3 linked regions of the Homo sapiens genome follow. The protein of the gene in region 3 interacts with the protein of the main gene of each other region in a biochemical or structural test. Each region holds a gene or a part of one and is shown on either strand. Other genes may lie near its edges.

Region 1 (4,233 bases), on a different chromosome or scaffold from region 3:
GTTCTTTACATGATCACAGTTGTTCTCCAAATTTGAAATTATCTCGAAATGTTAAAAAAAAAAATACAGACTGGGCGTGGTGGCTCACGCCTGTAATCCCAGTACTTTGGGAGGCTGACGTGGATGGATCATGAAGTCAGGAGATTGAGACCATCCTGGCTATCATGGTGAAACCCCATCTCTACTAAAAATACAAAAACTTAGCTGGGCGCGATGGCGGGCGCCTGTAGTCCCAGCTACTCAGGAGGCTGAGGCAGGAGAATGGTGTGAACTCGGGAGGCGGAGCTTGCAGTGAGCCGAGACCGTGCCACTGCACTCCAGCCTGGGTGACAGAGCGAGACTCCATCTCAAAAAAATAATAATAATAAGGCCGGGCGCGGTGGCTCACATCTGTAATCCCAGCACTTTGGGAGGCCGACGCGGGCGGATCACGAGATCAGGAGATTGAGATCATCCTTGCTAACGCAGTGAAACCCCGTCTCTACTAAAAATACAAAAAATTAGCTGGGCGTAGTGGCGGGCGCCTGTAGTCCCAGATACTCAGGAAGCTGAGGCAGGAGAATGGTGGGAACCCGGGAGGCGGAGCTTGCAGTGACCTGAGACCGCGCCACTGCGCTCCAGCCCGGGCGACAGAGCTAGACTCCCTCTCAAAATAATAATAATAATAATAATAATAATAATAATAATAATAATAATAAAATACAGGGGAAAGCTGTATTTTAATTCAAACATCGGCCATGCAGAGACTCCCTGCCCCCATATATCCCAGCTGACGCCCCAGGCCCCGGGCCCCCCTCCCTTGCAGGCCATCAGGGCCAATTCAGTTCTGCGTGTGCTTGTTCATCTGGCCAATGCCCTTAGAAGCCCAGCAGTGAAGGGTGTGGTGTGCATGGCCCTGCCTTCCCTGACCCCACCTGGCTGGCTTCCAGCTCACCATGGCTTCCCTGGCAGGCCCAGTTCACAGGCTTCCTGGGCACTGCCGCTGTTCCAAAGCAGGCCAGTCCCACTGAGCTGGGAAGCTGCCTAGACCCGCACCTAGCCAGCAAGCCTGGGAGCCAATGGTGGGGGGCTTCCATCCACCAATGGTCGGGGGCTGGGGTGGGCGGGGCTGCAGAGCCGCTGCTGGCTGGGGTGGGCGGGGCTGCAGTGCTGCAATTGGCTGGGGTGGGCGGGGCTGCAGTGCTGCAATTGGCTGGGGTGGGCGGGGCTGCAGAGCTGCTGCTGGCTGGGGTGGGCGGGGCTGCAGAGCTGCTGCTGGCTGGGGTGGGCGGGGCTGCAGAGCTGCTGCTGGCTGGGGTGGTGCAGGTGGTGGGTGAGATCTGCCGGAAGTCCATTCCCTGTAGTGTTCAGTGCCGGGAGTTGGCTGGGGCTGGGGTGGGGATGCTGGGGCTGGGGTGGGGATGCTGGGGCTGGGGTGGGGATGCTGGGGGAGACTCATGGCAGCTCCAGGCTCCCCTGGCGTTTCAGCCTCACCATCTTTCATCTGGCTCCAGGGACACGGGAGACCCCAGCCCCCAGGAACCAGAGCTCACCCCTCATCAGGCCCCACTCCCCACTCAGACGCCCCCATTCACTCCTTTCTTCACTTGGTCATTTATGCCTGTGGGCCACACATCTAGGAGGCAGGAGCTGCTCATGGGTGCCGCCCAGAACCAGGGGTCCCCCGGGAGGCAGACACTCCTGTCAGAGGGGGAACGCCCGGGGCCCAGGCCCAGCACCAGGTAGATGGGGGCGGGGGGTCGGGGAACCAGCAGGACAAGGGGCTGGGCAGCGGATAGGGATGGACCCGAGGCTCCCCTGGGTGGGCCGGAGCCCCGCCATTAAGGCACATCCCGGTGGGGCTTGGACAAGGCCCGGACCACGCAGCGCGAGGATGCGCGTGCTCCGCCTGGGCGCACCACGGCTTCCTGGGAGCTGCCCCCCACGGGGTCTCTCCTGGGTCCTTCGGGGGTCCCTGGGGGGAGCACAATGCCGGCCTCACTCACAACTGGCGGGGTGGGGGGCGGGAGAAAGGCCAGCCCGGCAGAGGACGCGCAGGAGAGATGGAAGCCTCCGGTGGACGTGAAATCTTTACTTAGAGAAAAGCGACAGAGTCAGAGACCCACGGGGGCGGGGCTGCAGCGAGGGCGCCTGGGGACACGAACACGGCGGAGAGCATCGGGAGACGCGCTGGTCACAGGAGCTGGCGGAGGACGCTGCGGAGACAGAGCCCGAGGGTTGAGAGCGGCGACGCGGCCAGGGGCTCCCCGCGGACCCCGCGTCACCCGGCGGGCTCGGATTCGCAACCCCCAACCCCGAGGTTCTGGCGGGCCGGGTCGGAGGGAAGAGGAAGGGAAGGGTGGCGGGGGTCTTTGGCTCAGAAGCGGTGGCGGGAGGCCAGGAAGAGACCTGGGCAGAGCCGGCCGGAGCCCCGCGGCGCGCACCTACCCCGGGCCGGGCTGCGGGGCTGGAGACGTCACTGCGCGGGCGGGGGCGCCGCGCTCCCGGCCGCCTTCCGCGCCGCCTCCTTCTCCGCCTTGGCCGACGGCTTCCCGGGGGGTTCGGTGGCCGCCGCCGCCGCCCCAGCCTGGGTGGGCCCCTTGCGCTCCTCCTTGGCTGCGCGGTAGCCGTCCCCCCAGGCCGCCGGCGTCTCCGTGCCGTGCTTGCGGCTCAGCGGGTAGGCCCCGATGGCCGCCAGGATGCTGCGGTGGCGCTCGGGGTCCATCTCCGTGTAGTACATCTCCAGGGTCAGCGGCGTGCAGATCTTGTGCTGCGGGAGGGGCCGGGTCAGGGTCGGTGGGGCTGAGCCCTCCTGTGCGCCCCGGGCCCAGGCCCTCCCGCTTCTGCGGTTGGGGACACTGCGGACAGTTTGTAATGGAGCCATGGCTTCAGGACACCGAAGATCAGCCTCCAGTTCAGAACTCAGGGCCCTGGAGGGGCATGGAGCAGGAGGTCGCGCGTTGTAAGGGGAGGGGCCACCCAGGGAGAGGGGCGCAGACACCAGTGGACCTGCCCAGCGCAGCAAGGACTCTGCGGAGCGCGCTCCAGAGCATAAACCATGGAGTTAAGGAGAAAAGGAGCAGATTTTACTTCTGATAAATAAAAGGCTTTCTAAAAACACACTAAAAGCTATAACCATTATTGACAAAGAGATTTAAAAAAAAAAAGGATGGAAGAAAATATCTGCCAAATAGGTGGGGAGCATTAATATCATGTTATATAAAAATAAAACCTCACACAAGTCACTCAGGAGGACAGATGACCCCTAGAGAGGTGGCTGCAGGGTGACCTTTTCTGCCTCATCTTTTTACTTATTTTTTAAATTACAAGAAGAGAAACCCATCACTAACTCATCTTTTCTTTTAAATTTTCAAAAGATACGATCTCATGTTCTAGAGAAGTAACAGGAACATGGCTTTGGAGACCACGTTCCCCCAGCAGCAGGAGACACCCCTGCCACCCCCTGCCTGGAGGCTACGGGAGGAGGGGCGGCTCTACACCCCCCACCAGAGCCCTGGCCCCCTTACCCGCAGCAGGAAGCCGTCGGGGCAGGTGAACTGGTCGTACCAGATGGCCTTGTACATGATCAGCACGCAGCCCAGTAGCGCCATGGCGAAGGCGATCATCCGTGCGGTGGGCAGCTGGCAGGAGGGCAGAGAGGGGCTCAGCCACGCCAGGCAGGGGCGGTCTTTGTGGGGAGCTCCTCAGGGGCTGGGCTGGCACAGGACCATCCCCGCCCTCCAGTCTTGATGCCCCACCCCCGCCCTGGGCAGCCAGTGGCTTTTCCAACTTTTCCGAGGGTCAAGTGTGCAGGCGTCACCCCTCGGGGCCAGGCCTTGCTGGTGGCCCCTCCACTGGGGTTCTGGAAACATCTGCCACCAGGTAAAGTGATGTGGCCTTTGACCCAGGTGGGTCTTGCAGGAATTTGCAGTTTTCCTGCGGTGTGGGCTCCCAGGGGATGGGGCCGCAGCCTCAGGGGAGTCGGAGGCTGCACTCACCAGGCCTCCCAGGTGACTGCCCACAGTGGGTGCATGTGTGGTAACATGAGCTGCAGACTGGAACGTGAGGCCAGGGGCGGGGAGCCCTAGCAGATCTGTCTACTGGAGAATGGAAGGCTTTGGAAACAGTCCACTAAAAATGACTAAAGCTATCATTAGTAACATTGACAGATTTAAACAAGAGGATGAGAGAAGATATTTGCCAGATATACTGCAGAAAGGAAGTATTACATAGAAAGCCCGTAAGTCACTGAAG
Region 2 (4,913 bases), on a different chromosome or scaffold from region 3:
GGGGGGGGGGGGGGGGGCGGATCACTTGAGATCAGGAGTTCGAGACCAGCCTGGCCAACATGGCAAAGCCCCCATCTCTACTAAAAATACAAAAATTAGCCAGGCATGGTGGTGCATGCCTGTAATCCCAGCTGCTCGGGAGGCTGAGGCAGAATTTCTTGAACCCGGGAGGAGGTTGTAGTGAGCCAAGGCACGCCACTGTATTGCCACCTAGGTGACAGCAAGACTCCATCTCAAAAAAAAGTTTGGTCATTGAGGACTCAAGAATGATCAGTTAAGCGTTGTCAATGCCTGTGGATTTTCATTTGTATCTGGTGGAGAATCAGTTCCGTTAGTGTTTCTGAAGCCATCTTGCCTTGTAAACAAACAAGAGCCAGGCACAGGGTCTGTCTTAGCCCTTGTGGTCAGTTTGCAAGGCCCTTTCACCCTAACCACCCGGCACAAGCACCCCGGCTACGCAGCCTTAGCTGAGGCCCCACTTCATCCTCCAGGAGACGTGAGCACAGGTGGAAGGCTTGTCTGAGGCCATACAGGAGCCAGCCAAGGGGCCTTTTCTCTCCCCTGACCCACCCTGTCCTGTTTCTCTATAAATGCCAGTGATCTTGGCAGGGGGTAGGACAGGGTGAGCTCCCCCACCTCAGCCTTCCCTCTGGCATGGTGCTCCTGGGTAAAGTGGGTGCTTGTGAGGCTGCCACACACCCAGGGACTGAACACCTTTCCAGGTTTCCGGTAAGTGCAAAGGCTGTGTGTGGCCATGGCTCAAGTCCAAGCCAGCCGGGAGTCAGGGTCCCCACCTTAGCTTAGCAACTGTCAGTCAGGCATGGTCTCAGACACACTGAGGGGGTCAGCAACTGCTAGGAGCCCCAGGGAAGCTGTGGGCATTGAGGCTGGGAGTGCAAGTGGCCTCTGTGGAGGCAGCTGGCTCTTGGCCTCCTGTGTAAAAGGAGGGCCCTGAGGCCCATAAATCCCCCGAGAGAGAGATGGAAGGCGGACACACACACAGCCAGTGACAGCCCTGCTGAGCTTTTCTGCAGTCCCAAGTACTCTAGCATTAAATGCAGACATGAATAGGTCCCCGCCCCAGCACCTGGCCAGGGCCGACAAGGGAACACGTGTCCCTGGAGGAATGAAGAGCCAGGCACAGCCCCTCCCTCTGGGGCATCAGTGACAACAAACAGTCAAAGTGCATTTTATTGCCAACAGAACACTTCAGGAGGAAATGCTAACACAAAGCCAAGGCGCTGGTGCTGGCTCATTTTTGCTCCTCCTGACCTTGGCCAGTATTTGGTAGCCTTTCCAGAGCACAGGGTGAAAGGCTAAAGGGCTAGGGCTGGGGTGGGGGGAGCAGGAGGGCATGGCAGCTGCTGGCTCTGTCCTCCCAGCCTGGTCCCACCCCTCCTGCCGCTCTCCTTGGGCTCAAGGGACACACATTCGTTCAAATCTGACGGGCAAAGCCAGGGCCTAGCCCACTCTAGCCGCAGGGTCCCCTCCCTGAGGGCCCTGGTCCAGCACCTGGGTTTCTGGGCTTTTTCTGGCTGAGCTGGAGGGCCTAGGGCCAAGCCCACTCTCCGGAGGGCTGGAAACCACCCCTTCAGGTGGGCAGTGGGGCGCGGCCAGAACGGGGGAATGGAAAACAGGAAATGGGGGTGGCTGCAGATTCCAGCTGGAAATGGAAACTCACTCCAGGAGTGAAGGCAGCGCCCGGGCCGCTATGTCTCACCTCACTCCCCAGAAAGCGGCCCCTTCCAGCATCTGACCCCTCCTGGGGGGCTCCCATCACGGAGGCCCGAGGGCCAGGCCTGAGGAGTAATGGGCGACATTCCTCTAGCCCACACAGAGCCTGGTCTGCGGAGACCACGCAGCTGGAGGGCCTGGTAGAATCGGTGCCCCAGAAGGCCACAGACAGGATGCCTGACCCTCGTCCCATCAGCCGGCACGGGCTGTGTGCCTTCCATCCATCCACGACCTTCAGGAGTCCAGAAGGCAGGGAGCCCCACGCTGGCCCGGTTTCCCAGTGTGCTGACTACAAACGTAGGAAGAAGAGCTCTAGCTCGGAATATTAAAAACACTATTTTCTGAAGAGGAATATTAAAAACACTATTTTCTGAAGAGTTGAGGCTCAGGCCTACCGGGTCCTGGCTGCACCCCAAAGTTCCTTCTGCAGATAAATAAGAGACTCACATCCAGAAGCACCACCCACATGGCCCAGGACCCTGCAGGCTCAGTAAGGGCCAGGGGCCTTGAGGACATTGATCCAGACGGTGGGGCGGGAGGCTTGGGCACCAGGTGGAGGGGCAAGGCCTCTCGGTCCTGTCAGGGCAGTTGCAGAGGCCCAGGCCTGTCACCAGCCACCCTGCTGGACCCCTGGGGGGCCTAGTAGTTCACGAGTTGAGCTGGGTAGATGCCATCCTTTTTGTCAAGCTGCAGGGGTTAAAGGTGGGGGGTCAGTGGTCACAGCCAGGCACCTGGGGCCCCACCTCTCCCTTGAGCAAGCTCCTCCCTGCATGTTGTCAGTGGTCCCTGACTTCCCCAGGGACGTGCACCATGTGCCCCTCTAGGGCTGGGGACAGCACCCCCGTCCAGGAACTCCCCCATCCCAGTGCAGACGGCACCTGGTGGTCCTGTCTGGGGGCCACGCTGGGCTTCTGGGCCAGGGGTGGTTTCTTGGTGGTTACACTTCGGGGGGCAGTGCTGGGCCGGATGGCCACCTCCTCTCCAGGGCTGCCTGATGCCCCAGCCAGCACGTAGTGTTGCTTCCGCAACTCCCCCAGCCGCATGCGTTCAGCCTCCAGCGTCTTCTCCAGCTCCAGGACACGCACCTGTAGCCACACGGCCTGCTCAGCCCAGCCCAGCCTCCCCAGGGAGCTCTCTCCTGGGTCCAGGCTTCGCCCGAGGGATGAGCTCAGAGGTCACGGGGCAGCCATGGGCGCCTACCTGGGTCTCCATCTCCTGCTTCTTCAGCTTGATGAGGGACAGGCCGGAGAAATCCATGGTGTCTGTGGCCGGAGGACAAGGGGGTGAACATCTGGGCACCCACCCCCATTCAGCCTCGGGAGCCAGCAGCCCCCGTTGGCATCTGGCACTCACCTCTGTCCTCAATCTGCTCCTGGCCTGACTTGGTGGAGGCCACCACATTGGCAGCCCTCTCATTGACTGTGCGAGAACATTCCTGCAGGCGGCTCAGGTGGGGGCTGTGCTTGTTGGCCTTCACCTGAGGGGCGAGAGGTCAGGGTGGGCCCAGGTCTCCCAGCTCAGGGCAGCAGCAGGCCTGGGCTTGGCAGCCACAGCCCAGGCCAAGCTGGGCCCAGAGCCCAGTGTGCTGCTGTCGGCGTGCAAGCTCACCTTGGAGGCCGCCACCAGCTGGGCCGTGCTGGCTGCGATCTCGTGGGAGCAGACGATGAGCTCCTCATACTTGCCCGTGTGAAGCACCACCTTGTCAGCTGCCTCCCTGCGGGTCAAGGGCCAGTCAGGGCCAGGGTCTCTGACCCCACGGACGGCTGGCACCACTCCACACCCCCTCTACTCCCTGCACCCTGTTGAACCCCAAACTGCTCCAACTGGCAGGAAGCAGCCCCCTGCCCCCCCCCACCCAGGGCAACCTACACCAGCTGTGTGGCTCCCCAGCCCACAGCCTTGGAGGCCGAGATGAGGCCTTCGGTCCAGCGCGAGTTCTTGGCGTAAAATTCCTGCTGCGTGGCTGCCCCCTAGTGGCGACGGGAGAACAGGGCAGGACATGCCAGTCAAGGACACCAAAGGTGGAAAGTGGCCCTCAAGGGCCCTCTCCCCCTCACTCTGGCCATAGGGCGCATCCCTGAGGCCTCCCTGTGGTAGGGGGTGGAGGGTCTCATGCCCAGGGTGGCCTAGGCTGGGGGTCAGGCTCCTTGTGGACTGTGCCCTGCTGCCGCCGGCCCCTCACCCTGCCGCTCTCCACGATCTCCTTCTGCAGGCTAGTGGATGTCGTCACCAGGAGCCGGATAGCCTGCCGAGACCAAGACAGCAATGACTGGTGGCCCTCCAGGTGCAGACCCCCCCGGGTCACAGCCCCTCACCTTCATCAGGTCTGTGCAGGAGTTGAGGATCCTGGGGGAGAGAAGGAGAGACTTAGCTGCCGCTCTGCAGAGCAGCCCACACGACGCCATGGCGGGCCTGGCCACATCAGGGCTCAGCAGGTGGGGAGGGAGTGTCTGCTCTGAGCCAGGCCTTCCTTTCCCGTGAGCAGAACAGTTGGGGGCAGAACCTTAGGGGCCACGGGGAGCCCACCTCGGCTGGGCCTGGGGGGACAGAAGGGGGGCTCACCTCTCGTTCACCTCCAGCTTCACCCCCGAGCTGGCGTGGCGTGCCTGGTTCATCATGTCCTGCACCCAAGAACAGAGCCGTGAGCTGGCTGGGAGGAGGGGACCGTGGTCCTGGGAAAGCCAGGGCTGCCTCCTGCCCTCTCAGCTCTGACCTCACAGGCCCCTGGAAAACGCCATCTGTCCTCTGTCTGGAGGCTGAGAGCAGGAGTGGGTGCAGCCTGTACCCAGCCCAGTTGGGGCCTCCGGCCCCCAAAGCTCCACAGGAATGAGGGGAGTCCCCAGATCCCGTGCTCACCTCAATCCTCCGCACAGCATCTTCAATGGCTGCGGATGTGGCCGCCATCTCCTTGTCGACCACGGCCCCCAGCTCCTCCTGCCGCACATCTAGGCTCTTGGGTTTCAGTTCCTGGTGAGGATGGGAGTCAGACAGGGGTAGCCTCCGTCCCCCCCCGTCCCACGGGCAGCCTGGGAAAGAGGTTGGGGACCACAGGGATCGAGGAGGGTGCATGGTCCCCACCCTGTGTCCTGAGGCTGCAGGCTCCACGCACAAACACCTGTTCAGCCAACCCAGAGGTGGGTGCAGAGGTCAGAGGCAGGCCCAAGCCTCCCAAACCCACA
Region 3 (5,547 bases):
TGACTAAAGGGGGAGGAATAAGCAGAGGCCAGAAATGTGGGCCAGGTCAAGGAAAGCCCAACTAAGCTTGGAAACGGGGAGGTAGCAGGAAAAGTAATGAAAGCTCCTTCCAGCCAAAAATAATTAACATTGAAGAGATAGTGGCCTTTCCTTCTTGGCAATGGCAACACCTAACCCCCATCCTGAGCATAGTATTACAGTTTACCTCAATCTCCAGTTTGGAAGTACCAGGTAGTTATAAGCAGATTACTGAAATATAGCTTTAATAATTGCTTGGAACATCACCTAAAACGAGCCAGGTACTATGCCAGGTTCTGAAGACAGATAATGAACTTACTGGTGTCTGAACAAAGCACGGGCTCCTGGAAACACCTGTGGTAGATCAGCATGGTCCAGTGCAGCTTTCTGCGACCATGGACATGTTCTATAACCTGTGCTATCCGAGTGCCACCTAACCACATATGGCTACTGAGCACATGAATTGTGACTAGGACTAGAAATGTATTTTAAATTCATTTAAATAGCCACATGGGCCTGGTGAATACTGCACTGGACAGCACAGGTCTAGATGAAGGATTTTACAAGAGAAATATGAACCAAGTGCTTGGGATGGCACAGAACCCAACATGTGCTACAGGACTCAACAGTAATGGGGCTAGCCACACATGAATGCCGTCCTGACTCAGGCTTACTGGCCGGATCCAAAGGAGTCAAGGTCTTACTAGAGTCTACGTGCCCCACAGACTCCTGCCGAAATATACTATCCAAGACCCTAAACTGAGGGACACTGGCAAGCAAGAGCCCATCTGGGAGAAAACGACTAGGTTGGTGAGAGGATTCACAGCTGTGTCTTAGGTAGATAATGAGGGGGTTAACCTTCAGCCACTAAACTCCCTTCTCAAATGAAAATGTCCACAGGATCCCACTCTAGATCCCGGTGCTATCTTAGTTCAAGGCAGGGCTGTGTGCCCAGTGGCTGTGCCTCCTCAGCCCTAGAAATTTCAAGGAAATTCCTCCTGGAAATTCCTTCCAACCTCACTCCAAACTACAACACATCTTGAGGTCAATAAAGAAGCTTCACATAATACAGTTTGAAACAGAAATTTATTCTCAGAATAATGCACAGAAGCACAGGTTGAGGCTACTCTTGGGAAGCTTCCCTCCCCTTCCTCTTCCTCCTCTCCCTCCTCTCTGAATGCCAGGGAGAACACAGTTGAAGGAAGGAAACATGCAATCACAAACAATGAACAACTCTAAAGACAAAAAGGTTTGGTCCAAAAGAACTCAACATAATTAATCCAATGACTGTGAAGAGCTTCACTGAGTAGGATTAAGATATTGCAGATGTAGTGTTTCCACAGGGTGGCTCTTCAGTGCACCAGCGGGGCCTGCTTGAGGGAGATGAGGACTGAGCGCATGCGGGAGACATCTTTGGCCTGCTTGCTAGACTTGGGGTTAAAGTCACACAGCCGGGCCACCCGTTCCCACTCAGTGCCTGGGGACGACTCGTCAATGTCATTTACAAAGGCTTCTTCTGCTGCCCTGGAAGCAACAACAAAATATGTTGGTTTATGCAGAACCCCCTTTGAGCAACCTGGTGGCTGCCTTGCTACACAAGCAACTGCCTATTTGTCCCTTTCTTAATGACATTCTGGCTTTCCCAAGATAACAGCCCCTGGCCCAGGTCAGACTCAGGTAGACACGTAGCTGGCTCTCCTAGGCACAGGGTGCCCAGACCGCTGTGTAAAATGTTGGAATACAGGTGTTTGGTTCAAGGCTCACTATGTCTCTCTGTCTGTCTCTGCTCCTGTGGAGCATTAATAAAACAAGTCCTTAGCCAGCTACACACTGCTTTTATTAATAAGAACAAAGCAGCAGGCTGATCAAGAACTTGAGTAGTTTATGCTGGGCTGTACTGAATTTCAAGGAAATTTAGAGACTTCTAAAAAGCCCACAGATCATTGCACAATAGCCTCTAGATTTATTCCTAAGGCTGGAGAGAAACGGGGCAGATCAAAAGGAATTCAAGACAAAGCTCCCATGCTAGCAAGCACTAGAGACTAAAGCCATTCTGGAAGGGGGTTTGTTAGGACATTCTCCAGTTCAGCCAAAAGTTTGCCATTTTCCCTCCAGCCAGGTGCCTTGGGGCCACTCAGGGCACACTGGCAGGAGAGCCAACGTGAGTTGCTTTTTGGCAGGATGCTGCTCCAACATTCTTTCACATCAAGGTCAGCCCACCCCCAGTTCGGAATTAACTGGTGGGAGCTACAGCCGGAAAGGACAGCGCTAAGACACACTATATTCATCTACTCCAACAAGCATCACGGGCAAAGCAAAAGCAATGGAGATGACTGGTCTGTGGGGACGGAGGGGTGGCACTATCACAGGGATGGCCGTGGCAAACACCGCTGAAGCCCAGAGCCACTACAACACTGCGACTTCATGGCACACACAGTTAGGGGCAGTGAGAAAGGTTTACTTAACTGTTCTAGGCTGTAGCAAGGATGGTTTATGTTTGTGCTTAAAGGTGAAGAGAAGAAAAGAAACGAGAGAAACTTTAAGTCAGATATAGAAAATGAGAATGAGCTCAATGCAGATGGTCAGTAAGCTGGACATGCCCTTGCCACTCTATCTGTGCTTGGGGACGTGCAGCTGGCTTTGCTGGCCACCCAGCTGCCCAGCAAAACCAGACTCGACCTTTCCAGTCTCCATTTCTACTCCAGAGAGAATGTGCAGAAATCAAATCAAACACCACCTGTAAGTCCAGCATTTCACAAGTCTCACTGCAAATGCATCTGGGGGCCCAGGAAACCCAGTTCTATCTTCTAAGGGGATGAACATCTCAAGGTCATAGGCCCTGAGAGGCTCTACAGACCTGAGCTCATCGCCCACCTTCCACAGGTTCCTCTCCTCTTCCATTCCACCCTTACTTCTCATGTAAAGCCAGCCCTAATTTTTAAGGAGGAGACAATGAGAACTGTTTCCAACTCTTCAGCAATACTGCTTTGATAAAAGAAATCCTTAAAAAAAAGAAAAAAGAAAAAAAGAAAAAAAAAAGAATAAGAAAAACACCTTCTCCAGAGAAGATGCAGGTTTCTTTTGGGGGGGTCAGGGGGAGAAGCCCAAGTGGCCCGTATCAAGACACTTTGACTATCCTGATCTCAAAGCTGGGGGCTTCCCTGTGCTAGGAGACAGGACATCAGAAGCTGACCACTAAATAGCAATTTCTGACATGCAAGACCACAGAGGAACAATTATAGACACCCACTGGAGACAACCCCCTCTGCTCTGGACTCTTCTGCCTGAGGGAGAGGCAAACGACCCCACATTGTTTGAATGAACCAAGTATGGAAAATGCTGCCCCACAGCTCTGATTTTGGCAATGCAAGGTGCTGCTGCTCACTGGCTCCTAACCTCCTGGGACTGCCACCTGCTCCCAGGTGGGGAAACCTCCTTCCCACCTGAGGCAGGCAGGCAACAGGGCATGGCAGCAGTGATGGCAGCCAAGAGCAAGAGAGCAGAGTTCCCCCGAGCCTCAAACCGTTCCCAGATAAGATCGCAAATGACACATTTTGAAAGCGAGTTAGCTTTCTTCCCTCCAAAACCCCAAATATGAAAAATGGCCATCAGAGGATGCAGGGAGTCACAAATCTGGAAGATTCATCAACAGATCATACCCCGCTTATCAATTCTTAGGCAGCCCCCAAAGTGCCAATTTGAAATAATTTAAAAAGCAAAGCAACTTGTGACATAAAAGGAGCATTAACTCTAAACAAAAGTAGAAAGAATCAGATGTAGAAAAAGGAATTAGTTTTGCAACATACACATAACCAATCACGTCAGCGAAGGGTTGTTTGTAGAAAGCTTCATCTGCCACCCTAGACAGCAAGAGGTCCAAAAGGCAGGCAAGCAGGCAGGAAAAAAGAGAGAACATTGAGAAGCAGAAACATCTAAAATCCACAATTGAGGTACAACTGTGCTCTGAGGAGCTGCTCCCAAGGCTCCTTCCTAACCCCCGTGAGGCTTCCAGCGCTGGAGACTTCAGCAGGCCTGGTTTCCCGCTGGCCTTCCCACGTGGGGACTGCTCCACGACAGAGCAAGCACTGCCAACTTCATCCCTTTGGCTCACCCCAGCAACACGGGCATTTATTAAGCACCCAATCATGGACTAAGCCCTTTCACATACATTATGTTGATTCAATCCTTAACTGTTAACAACCTATGACCCTGACTGTTCTCACCCCCACTGTACAGATGAGGTAACTGAGGCTTAGAGATGAACAACTTGCTCAGCTACACCACAGTGGCAGCATTCAGGACTCACAACCAAGGCAGCCTGGCCCTAAGTCCAGGGCTCTTTCTACTGTATAGTCATGCTTCTTCCCTGCTGTATGTGCCCAGAAAGCCACGCCACCTTCCTGTTTCAGTTAATGCACTGGGCAGGAATGCTGCCAGACACCAGATGCGCTAGGACCCAAAGCCAGTTTTATCTTGGATTATCTAACTACTGCTTCCCCACACTGTCTGGGTGGGATACACTTCCAGAATCCTGGGAACACATATCGTCATTTTAAAATCTCAACCTTACAGGAAAAAACGGCTGGAGGTGAGTGGTCTGGTGGGAAGAACACTGGACTAGGATCCTGGCCCTGGCTTCTGTTGTTCCTGAATATGGCTCTCTCTCTACTCAAGAAGCGGGTACAGTTTCTGAATATTTTTACACCAGACTCAATTGGCTTTGATAAGGTGCAGCCCAGAATCCAGAACTTCATCCCTTCTTAACTCTCAACATGGCAGGGCTCTCAGACAGGAAGGAGGGGGCAGACTGGGTGGATAAATTTTGACAGCAGGGGCCAGGCTGGCTTTGACTCTGTTGTCCTGGACTGACTCCCTGGGCTCTGCCAGCCCACTCTTCTCCACTGTGGCTGGACATGGAACCTCCCTCATGGAGTCTTACCCTGTCCTTTGTCAAGTCGATTTGGGGTGGGCAAGGGGAAAGACATTTTTCAAGGATAATCATGCCTGGTCATTAAGCTAACCTCACATACTTATTTGAAGGCAAATTCTAGTAATTTTAAGTTAATTTTTAAGCTCACACATGCCCTTCCTTCTTTCCCATTTTGTTTTATACACAGGAGGTGTTTTGTGGAAATTTAAAGAAAGCAAAAAGAGCAGGCTGATTATAACTTAAAGTGACTCAGCAGGAAAACAGAGTTGTTTGTGGGCAGAATGAGTGGGAGGAAAAGGCAAGGCAGGCTGGCTTATAAACCCATAACCCTTTTAGTTTACACAAAGGACTAAACCTGATCGATTTCAACTTGGGTTTCCCTCCACAAGAAGAGTAGAGGTTTCATGACTCCTGTCAAATCATCACTAAGACAACAAAAGTTTGAATGTCAGGCTCTTGCTCCTTTGCAGCTAGCCCAAGACCAAAGAGCTCCTCAGTGACAAGCACATCCCCTGTCAAGGTTGCAGGCCCAGAACAAACAGAAAATCAGACACACACACAGGTGGCCCTCCCCTTATTTGTCCTTCACTTGAAAGTAG

What was found.
Region 1: the proteins of CLTA (region 3) and CALY form a complex in vitro, tested with the Homo sapiens proteins (one study listed by IntAct).
Region 2: the proteins of CLTA (region 3) and HIP1R form a complex in vitro, tested with the Homo sapiens proteins (one study listed by BioGRID).

What each region holds. Positions count from the first base shown.
Region 1 is NC_000010.11:133,323,372-133,327,604, forward strand, and holds the end of CALY (neuron-specific vesicular protein calcyon), read right to left. Parts: intron 3,621-4,233; coding exon 3,507-3,620; intron 2,910-3,506; exon of another isoform or gene 2,864-2,909; coding exon of another isoform or gene 2,750-2,863; coding exon 2,456-2,749; 3' UTR 2,428-2,455; intron 2,196-2,427; 3' UTR 701-2,195; downstream 1-700. UniProt on the Homo sapiens protein: Interacts with clathrin light chain A and stimulates clathrin self-assembly and clathrin-mediated endocytosis.
Region 2 is NC_000012.12:122,859,214-122,864,126, reverse strand, and holds the end of HIP1R (huntingtin-interacting protein 1-related protein), read right to left. Parts: intron 4,702-4,913; coding exon 4,591-4,701; intron 4,356-4,590; coding exon 4,297-4,355; intron 4,081-4,296; coding exon 4,050-4,080; intron 3,980-4,049; coding exon 3,917-3,979; intron 3,705-3,916; coding exon 3,604-3,704; intron 3,449-3,603; coding exon 3,343-3,448; intron 3,212-3,342; coding exon 3,088-3,211; intron 2,997-3,087; coding exon 2,935-2,996; intron 2,820-2,934; coding exon 2,613-2,819; intron 2,422-2,612; coding exon 2,374-2,421; 3' UTR 1,166-2,373; downstream 1-1,165. UniProt on the Homo sapiens protein: Component of clathrin-coated pits and vesicles, that may link the endocytic machinery to the actin cytoskeleton. Binds 3-phosphoinositides (via ENTH domain).
Region 3 is NC_000009.12:36,207,598-36,213,144, reverse strand, and holds the end of CLTA (clathrin light chain A), read right to left. Parts: exon of another isoform or gene 4,591-5,547; intron 3,879-4,590; coding exon of another isoform or gene 3,825-3,878; intron 2,521-3,824; coding exon of another isoform or gene 2,485-2,520; intron 1,543-2,484; coding exon 1,371-1,542; 3' UTR 1,086-1,370; downstream 1-1,085. UniProt on the Homo sapiens protein: Clathrin is the major protein of the polyhedral coat of coated pits and vesicles.